2 separate regions of the Homo sapiens genome follow, and region 2 is linked to region 1. The links come from fine-mapping of genetic effects on gene expression. Tissue or cell type: T cells. Region 1 holds a variant in brackets; the other region holds the start of a gene. All regions are shown on one strand. Distances are from middle to middle.

What was found. PIP is the estimated chance that this variant, and not a neighbour inherited with it, causes the effect.
Region 2: TMEM45B starts here. The variant in region 1 is fine-mapped to the expression of TMEM45B in T cells (TOPMed, PIP above 0.99).

The regions. Positions count from the first base shown.
Region 1 is chr11:129,852,893-129,857,279 of GRCh38, forward strand. TMEM45B (transmembrane protein 45B) reads left to right here. Exons shown (of 6, transcript NM_138788.5): 3 at 1,718-1,924; 4 at 2,816-3,000. Among named protein-coding and RNA genes, the nearest start is that of TMEM45B, 39 kb to the left of the region's middle. The variant C/T (reference allele first, on the strand shown) is at 2,199.
Region 2 is chr11:129,813,590-129,817,976 of GRCh38, forward strand. It overlaps TMEM45B (transmembrane protein 45B), which reads left to right and starts at 2,259. Exons shown (of 6, transcript NM_138788.5): 1 at 2,259-2,309. It overlaps LOC124902793 (a long non-coding RNA gene), which reads right to left and starts at 1,098. Exons shown (of 2, transcript XR_007062952.1): 1 at 379-1,098.

The sequences.
Region 1 (4,387 bases):
GGACACAGGTATGGAAAGTTGTAGGAGCAAAACACCCACTGTATGAAAAAGATATGACACAAATAAAAAGAGAAAAAAACAAAATAGATTAGGCTCACGTACCTTAGTTGTGACAAAGTAGAAAAATCACCTTTTTTCCTCAATTGTCTCTCCCTCCAGATCCTTACAGTAGTTAACACCCAACCCACTGGCTTATCTTCATCCTCAAGTCTCAAGCGCTTATAGAGAGTTTATGTAGATTCGTAAATTAGCCAGTGGGAGAGAAAAAGCAGCAGAGGGCTGTTGAAGAGGAATTTTCCTTCACTCTGCCCCATTCCAACAAGATCCACCCACTCCCACTGTTTCCTTCGCATCCACTCCGCTCCACTGCGGCCCTCCAGGAACAAGCAGTGATGACAGTAACAAGTGTTCTTCCTCAGGACCAGCCCCACCTGGGGGGAATGAGGGGTCTTAATCTGCAACTGACAATTACCACTTGTCATCAGTGGCCTATGGCTTCTTGGAGAGAGTGAAGCAACATCGCTTCTCTTGGAGGAAGCAAAGCTTCACAGGGCTTTGTTGGTCTCATCCTGCTGAATGTCCCCACTCACCATTCAGGCATCAGAGAGGCCTCCCGTGAGAAGTGACAGGGACCTGTGGCTTAAAGGATCAGGACAGCATCAACCTTGCCTAAATAAAGCTAGGACAATTACAATATTTGGCCCCTTGACTGGGTGAAAATGGTACTCATTCAACAGCTCTCTGGCACTCCTACCACAAGCCAGGAAGTCACTGTTCCAGGCATAGGAGATACACTGGGGAACCACACAGCCGCTGCTGTCACAGGGCTTCCATTCTAGTGTCACTGGGACTTTTCCTGGGTCATTTCCACAACTTCCTGACTCTGTGTGTGGGAATTCAAAAAGGGTCTGGCTTGAGAAACAAGTATCTGGGAAACGGAGTCCAAAATGTCATCATGGAGGATTTCTTCTAGGCTTCCCCAAGAACACTTTGGGTACCAGGCATAAAGACAAATCTTTTGCCTTCCAAATTAGCTGATAAAAGTAGAAGGGATAAGAACTAAGAGCTATCCTGTGTCGCAGTTTCGTCATTTTCTGGCCCACATCCTGGGGCCTCTGCCTTGTTTACCCGGTGTTTTAAAACACACAGCTGGGAGGGGCGCAGGGCTTGCAGAGCTGGCTCTGTGCCCAGGAAGGACACGCACTCAAAATCAGCCCTGCAGACACGCACCTGGGAGCCGCTTCCCTCCCTTGGCACGTACAGGTATCTTCATTACCAGTGTGTCTCTGCTCAGATTCTGCTTTCAGCCTAATTGTTTCTGTCTGGGATTTCTTTCACTGCTCACTTGGCAGGGAAGCCCAGAGATTATTCTATCAGCCACACTCCGACTTAAGTGATGATGTCTTGCTCATCTCTGCTCCTGGACAAACCTCCTGGGGATCTATGTGTGTGTGGTTGTGTTCATTGATTCTTCTACCCTCAACCCCAAACCCCTAAAAGGAACAACAATGGCAAGATGTCTACACAGGTGACTCAGCACACACCCTACTTTATACTGAAGCAGCTGCACCTGAGGCAGCAAAGTAGCTCTGCTGACCCGCGGGCCACCCTCACCTCACCCCATCTCCGCTTCGCTCATGCCTTTGGGTTATTCCTTGCTCCTATTTGTCTTAGAGCTACTCTTCCCTCTAAAACATCCATCCTCATTTCCCTGCAGGGATCCTGGCAGAGCAGTTTGTTCCGGATGGGCCCCACCTGCACCTCTACCATGAGAACCACTGGATAAAGTTAATGAATTGGCAGCACAGCACCATGTACCTATTCTTTGCAGTCTCAGGAATTGTTGACATGCTCACCTATCTGGTCAGCCACGTTCCCTTGGGGGTGGACAGACTGGTTATGGCTGTGGCAGTATTCATGGAAGGTAATTTTGTGGAACGGATGGAGAGGAAGGAGAGCCTGACAAGTCATATTTATGAAGGATCAGAGTACAAAATATCAGAAATGTTGCAAATATAATAACCTCCCCCAGAAAATCCACATCTCTGGACTGCCAAAACCTGAATAGGACCTAGTGCTCTACTCTGGATGGGCCAGGTGACATATTCCCTAAAGTAGCTCATGAAAGCTTTGAGGCTTGAAGGCAGCTACCAAAGCCCCGGCTAACACTGCAGGAGTCCTCCTCGCCTTCCCACTGC[C/T]GCCAGCAGCCCCTGCTCACACACGTGCATATTCCTCGGTGTGGACGTATGTGCGCACATACACATGCGGGTACACACAATGCCCCAGCTGGTTGAATGCCACCATGCAGGGGATACACCCCTTTGGTTAAGCGAAACCACACTCTACCTTTTGCCCAGGGAGGTACCGTCTTGCCTCCATCACAAGCCTCAGGAGACCCACTCCACTGCCAGGGGAGCGCTGCCAGTATGACTCACACTGACTGGGGTATGAAAATACATTTTGTCATCTAACAACCTCACTTCTGTACCTCAGCAAGAGTCGAAAAAGGTTGAGGGCAAAACTGAATTTCAAGTATACACACACAGTCTGTTACAAATCAGCAACATGCTTCAGCCGGCCCATCCTATACTGACCCCACCATGGGTTCCATAGAGATTTTAAGATACAATCCCTTGCTGCTTTATACTCCTAACATACTCATGAAATACACTTACTCGCATCTGTTTGCTGCCTGTAATGTTATGTACTAACTGCCTAAATGCTGAAGAACCTAGCTGAGACAGGTGTAGGAGGAAACTTCGGTGATGGTGAAAGCCAAGCGTAGCCCTGACAGCTGCCATCTGGTTTGTGGCAGGTTTCCTCTTCTACTACCACGTCCACAACCGGCCTCCGCTGGACCAGCACATCCACTCACTCCTGCTGTATGCTCTGTTCGGAGGGTGTGTTAGTATCTCCCTAGAGGTGATCTTCCGGGACCACATTGTGCTGGAACTTTTCCGAACCAGTCTCATCATTCTTCAGGGAACCTGGTTCTGGCAGGTGATTTTCCACACCCAGGCCCCTCGCTGGTCTGGATGGAGAAGCCCCCACCGAGCGCATCCCAGAGAAATCCCTGACGAGAATATGGGGTCTGAAAATGCAGCATTAACATGCCATGCAAAGGGGTTTAGATGACCCTTTTCCCCCCATGCCCGCCCTTTGACTCCTAGTTTTATCCATTAACATCCAGAGGATGCATTAGCAATCCAAAATTTAAAGCATGCACGGTGACGTTCAGCTGCCCTCCCCAGAGGATGGGCTGATGCCTTTCACAGGCTCTGCTTGCTAAACTGTCCACTGGAAACGTGGGCCCTGAAGTTCTGTTTTGTTGTTTGTTTTGAGAGAGACTCACCCTGTCACCCAGGCTAGAATGCAGTGGCGCAATCTTGGCTGACTGCAACCTCCATCTCCCAGGTTCAAGCGATTCTCATGCCTCAGCCTCCTGAGTAGCTCAGGTTACAGGTGCCCGCCACCACACCTGGCTAATTTTTTTGTATTTTTAGAGACAGGGTTTCACCATGTTGGCCAGGCTGGTCTCGAACTCCTGAACTCGAGTGATCCGCCTGCCTCAGCCTCCCAAAGAGCTGGGATTATAGGCGTGAGCCACTGCACCTGGACTTGTGTTTTTAAGTAAGCCTATACAACCAAAATTAAGCTGAAGCCTTTTTTTTTTTTTTTTTTTTCTGAGACAGAGTCTCGCTTTGTCGCCCAGGCTGGAGTGCAGTGGCGCAATCTTGGCTCACTGCAAGCTCCACCTCCCAGGTTCACGCCATTCTCCTGCCTCAACCTCCCAAGTAGCTGGGACTACAGGCGCCCGCCACCACGCCTGGCTAATTTTTTGTATTTTTAGTAGAGATGGGGTTTCACCGTGTTAGCCAGGATGGTTTCAATCTCCTGACCTCATTATCCACCCACCTCAGCCTCCCAAAGTGCTAGGATTACAGGCATGAGCCACCGCGCCCGGCTTTTTTTTTTTTTTTAAGACAGTCTCGCACTGTGGCCCGGGCTGGTGTGCAGTGTCATGATCTCGGCTCACTGCAACCTCCGCCTCCCAGGTTCAAGCAATTCTCCTGCCTCAGCCTCCCAGTTAGCTAGGATTATAGGTGCCCACCACCATGCCCAGCTCATTTTTTGTATTTTTAGTAGAAACAGGGTTTCACTATGTTGGTCAGGCTGGTCTTGAACTCCTAACCTTGTAAACCGCCTGCCTCAGCCTCCCGAAGTGCTGGTATTACAGACGTAAGCCACCATACCTGGCCAGAGCCATTTTTCTATGTGAAAAGGCCTTTCTATGCTAACGAAGTGTGGGAACTATGAGGCGGTGGTCACACATGGGCCACTTCGGTGGCCACAGGAGAACGGCTAGATTGCTTCTCAGGACGACCAA
Region 2 (4,387 bases), 39 kb before region 1:
TCACTGACGGCACTACCTCTTGGCCATTACCACCTCCCACCAGATCCCATTCGCTCTGTTTTACCAGGGAAAGGTCTGCTCCAGTTAATGCCTTATCCTTCACAGTGATGTTCTTTGACTTTATAAAAACGGAGCCATTTGGTCAACAGGCTGCCCGTCGGATCCCGTGTCCTTCTGCACTGCTAATATCTAGCTGTGGCCCTGCTTTAAAACCCAAATGCAAACATCTCTTCCATGAAGCCCTTCCTGATTGCCAGTGCCCTCAACAGTGGAATAAGCTGCCAGGCATCTTAGAGATCTAGACCCGTGGTTCTCAACCCCCACTTCCCCAGGCCTCCTGAGAAGCTTTTAATAGGTGCATCAGCCCTGGATTCTTACCGGCAGGACTGAGAGGGAGCCTTAACGCTTGTGTTCTTCTAATAGTGTGCACAGGGTTGACGGGAAACACACACACACACAGTGCAGAACCATTCCACGAAGCTGTGTATCCGGAATTGGTTCCCTCTGAAGAGTTCCTGGTCCCGGTCCTGCCGCGGACCTTCACGGCATTATAGTTCTTAAACATGGTGTGTCCGGAGTTTGTTCCTTCAAATGTTCAGGTGTGTCCGAAGTTTTTTCTTTCTAGAGAGTTCGTGGTCTATGCACGACTTGATGAGTGAGGCCGCGGACCTTCGCAGGGAGTGTTACAGCTCTTAAAGGTGGCGCATCCGCGTTGTTCCTTCCTCCCAGCGGGTTCGTAGTTTCGCCGACCTCAGGAGTGAAGCCACAGACCTTCGCAGGGAGTGTTACACCTCTTAAAAGTGGTGCGTCTGGAGTTGTTTGCTCCTCCCTGTGGGTTCGTGGTGTCGCTGACTTCAGGAGTGAAGCCACAGACCTTCACAGTGAGTGTTATGGCTCTTAAAGGTGGCGGCTCCAGAGTTGTTTCTTGTGGTGGCTTCCTGGTCTCGCTGGTTTACAGGAGTGAACCTGCAGACCTTCACTGTGAGTGTTAAAGCTCATAAAGGTAGTGTGGACCTAAAAGGTGAGCAACAGCAAAATTTATTGCAAAGAGCGAAACAACAAAACCCCAACACCATCGAAGGGGACCCAAACGCAGCTGCCGCTGGCTCGGATGGCCAGCTTTTATTCCCTCATTGGCCCCGCCCACATCCTCCTGATTGGTCCTGCCCACATCCTCCTGATTGGTCCATTTTACAGAGCGCTGATTGGTCCATTTTACAGAGTGCTGATTGGTCCATTTTACAGAGTGCTGATTGGTCCGTTTTTACAGAGTGCTGATTGATGTGTTTACAAACCTTTAGCTAGACATAGAGCATTGATTGGTGCATTTACAATCCTTTGGCTAGAGAGAAAAGTTCTCCAAGTCCCCACCAATTAGCTGGACACAGAGCACTGATTGGTGCATTTTTACAGAGTGCTGATTGGTGTGTTTACAAACCTTTAGCTAGACACAGAGTGCAGATTGATGCTTTTACAATCCTTTAGCTAGACAGAAAAGTTCTCCAAGTCCCCATCCGACCCAGAAGCCCAGCGGGTTTCACCTCTCAGTAGCTTACAGAAGAGGACCCTGCTGCCACAGCACAATACCACAAAGAAAGTCATGCTCTCCTCAGCAGGTAGCCCCCTTCTCCGGGACAGGAACTTTGTTTCCTTCTTAGCTCTATCGCCAGCACCTAGAACAGTGCCCACCTGTCAGATCTGTTATCAGATGGGAACATGGCAGATTTGTTGAATGAATGAAGGAATGAATGAACTATGTGACACTCAAACTTAGCCACCAAACTTAAACTAAAAAAACTGGGTTGTGGTCCCTGATGGACCGTTGGCACCTTCTTCCTTTGCTGGACGGTGATCCGTGGCTGTTTCTGCGGTGTGTTCGCAGTGGTTGCCTGGCTTGGTAACAAACACTCTTCGGAGCCACAGCCTGTTCTCAGGGTCCTCGCCGCCTCCCAGGCCCTGCGATCTCTTTGCATCTCAGGAGGTCCAGGTTGGTTGCAGTCCTCTTGGGTGACTCAGGAACCAGCCTCTCCTGAAGCACACAGCTTAGGGAGTTCCTGAGGCCAGAGACATCTCCACGGGAAAGTCAAAGGCCTGGAGGAAGTGCGGACCTGACGACAGATGCCCCGCACGCTGGCCGGGACCGGGAAGGGCGGTCAAGGGTGGAAAGGGGCTGGCGGCTGCCAGGCCTGGCGGAGTGGAGCGGGGCGGGGCGCAGCGGGGCGGGGCGGGCCTGGAGCTGCACCTGCTTCTGGGCGGACGCACTTGGCGCGCGGCGCGGGCTGCAGACGGCTGCGAGGCGCTGGGCACAGGTCAGACGTCCGTACCCGCAGGGGGCTCGAACCTGGAGGAGGGCTCGAAGGGAGAGGGGGCCCCGCCAAGGAGCGGGGCTGTGATGGAGAGGAGGTTCCGACTCGCAGGGGACCTGCGGGGGAGGGGACGCGGACAGGGAGGGGCTCTGGGACAGGGGTGAAGGCTGCGCTAGGGGAGGACGGGAGGGGATGGAGGGCCCTGGTGTCGCGGAAGCCCAGCTGGGGCCCCCTCCGGGCTGCGGAACCGGTGCGCACACTACTCCCACCGCCCCCGAGTGCCTCTGTCCGGCTGGCCGCGGCCCTGGAACGAATATTGCTCAGTCCCCCGCGAGTCAGGTCTGCCGCGTTGCCCGGTGAGGGGAAGGTGTGAAGCCCCGGGCCTCCGTCTGCCCGGTGAGTCCGGGGACGCGCGCCCCCGGGGATGCCATCTGGCTCCTGGGCTGTGACCAGTCACAGCTCACATAGCTCTGGGCACTGGTACCGACTGCCTTTCCTTGTTAGCTGCGATACACAAATACACGAGCCAGATCCTTTCCTGAGGCCAGGAAGCCTGGAATCTAATAACACCGGGCGGTGGATAAAGTCCCCCGAGCCAGTGCTTAGCTTCCGTTAATGGAGCCATGGATGGAAGCGGATGTCAGGCGCAGTGGGGGAGAAATTTGCGGGGGTGGCCCTGTCTAGGGCCAGAGAAACAACCTCTGAAGCTTTGATCCAGCCCTAGAGGGAAGAAAGATGTGAGTTTCAGCCAGGGAAACGTAGCACTTTAAGAAATAGAAACCCTTTCAAAATTTGAGGGCAGGTAGCTCTCCTAAAAGTTGCAGAAATGGCCACTTCTTTTTTTTTTTTTTTTTTTTTTTGAGACGGAGTCTCGCTCTGTCGCCCAGGCTGGAGTGCAGTGGCGCAATCTCGGATCACTGCAAGCTCCACCTCCCGGGTTCACACCATTCTCCTGCCTCAGCCTCCCGAGTAGCTAGGACTACTGGCGCCCGCCACCACGCCCGGCTAATTTTTTGTATTTTTTTTTTTTTTGGTAGAGACGGGGTTTCACCGTGTTAGCCAGGATGGTCTCGATCTCCTGACCTCATGATCCACCCGCCTCAGCCTCCCAAAGTGCTGGGATTACAGGCGTGAACCACCGCGCCCAGCTAGAAATGGCCACTTCTTTCACGTTCTCTTCGACCGCTTTCTGCGGTGTCTGCCCTTTTCCTCCTCCTGCACCTTTTTGTCTCCTAGGGTCGCATAGCCTTCCAAACAGGCCTGCCTACAGCATTTTACCTGCAATTTTACACTCATTTTAATAGAAAGGATGGCTTATTGTTCATGAGAGACGTGTACTGTTTTTAACCAGATGTGTAATATCTTCAGTATAACCTGGATGTTGTGCAGTGGGAAGTTATGGAAAGAATCAGGACACGTGGTTAGGTAGGGGCCCAGGGGCGTCAGACTTAGCTCTTTGTGACAGTGAGCTTCTTGGTTTAATAAGGATATTGGCTCCCTCTGTTCCTGGGGTTTCTGGGAAAAGATATGGAACTGATATGAAGGTTTTATTGAATATGGCCCACTGATTTTACAAGTGGAGGTGACTGAGATAAGCAGAAGGTGAGGCATGACCTCTGGCTGTGCATTATTTGTTCTGATATTACAGGAGCCAAGCATTCCATTTCCTTCTTTTTAAAGAGCTTTGATTTCCTCTCACATCTTCATGAAGATGGAAACAGTGCCCCCACTTACTTATCCTCAGGCCACACCTGTTCCCATTTATTCCATGAGTTCCTCCCACACCCTTCTGGTTGATGTTGGTTGTGATGGTCGAGGTAATTGAATCTCACATTTGGCACCAGTTATTTCTGTTTCTCATCTCCCCCCTACCTGCAGTTAAACATCAGCTGCTATACTTAACTGTTCAAAGTACAGATGTTACCTGTGTTGGGTGTAATCAAAAGATTATCTCTTTTCCTCAAATGAAAAATGGGTGAGGACAGTTTCACCACACATAGAGTCACTCCCCTAGCCAAAGTCCTTGCTATTGCAAAACTTTTTACTGTAAGAGAATTAAAGTCACTAGTGTGTCATCAACT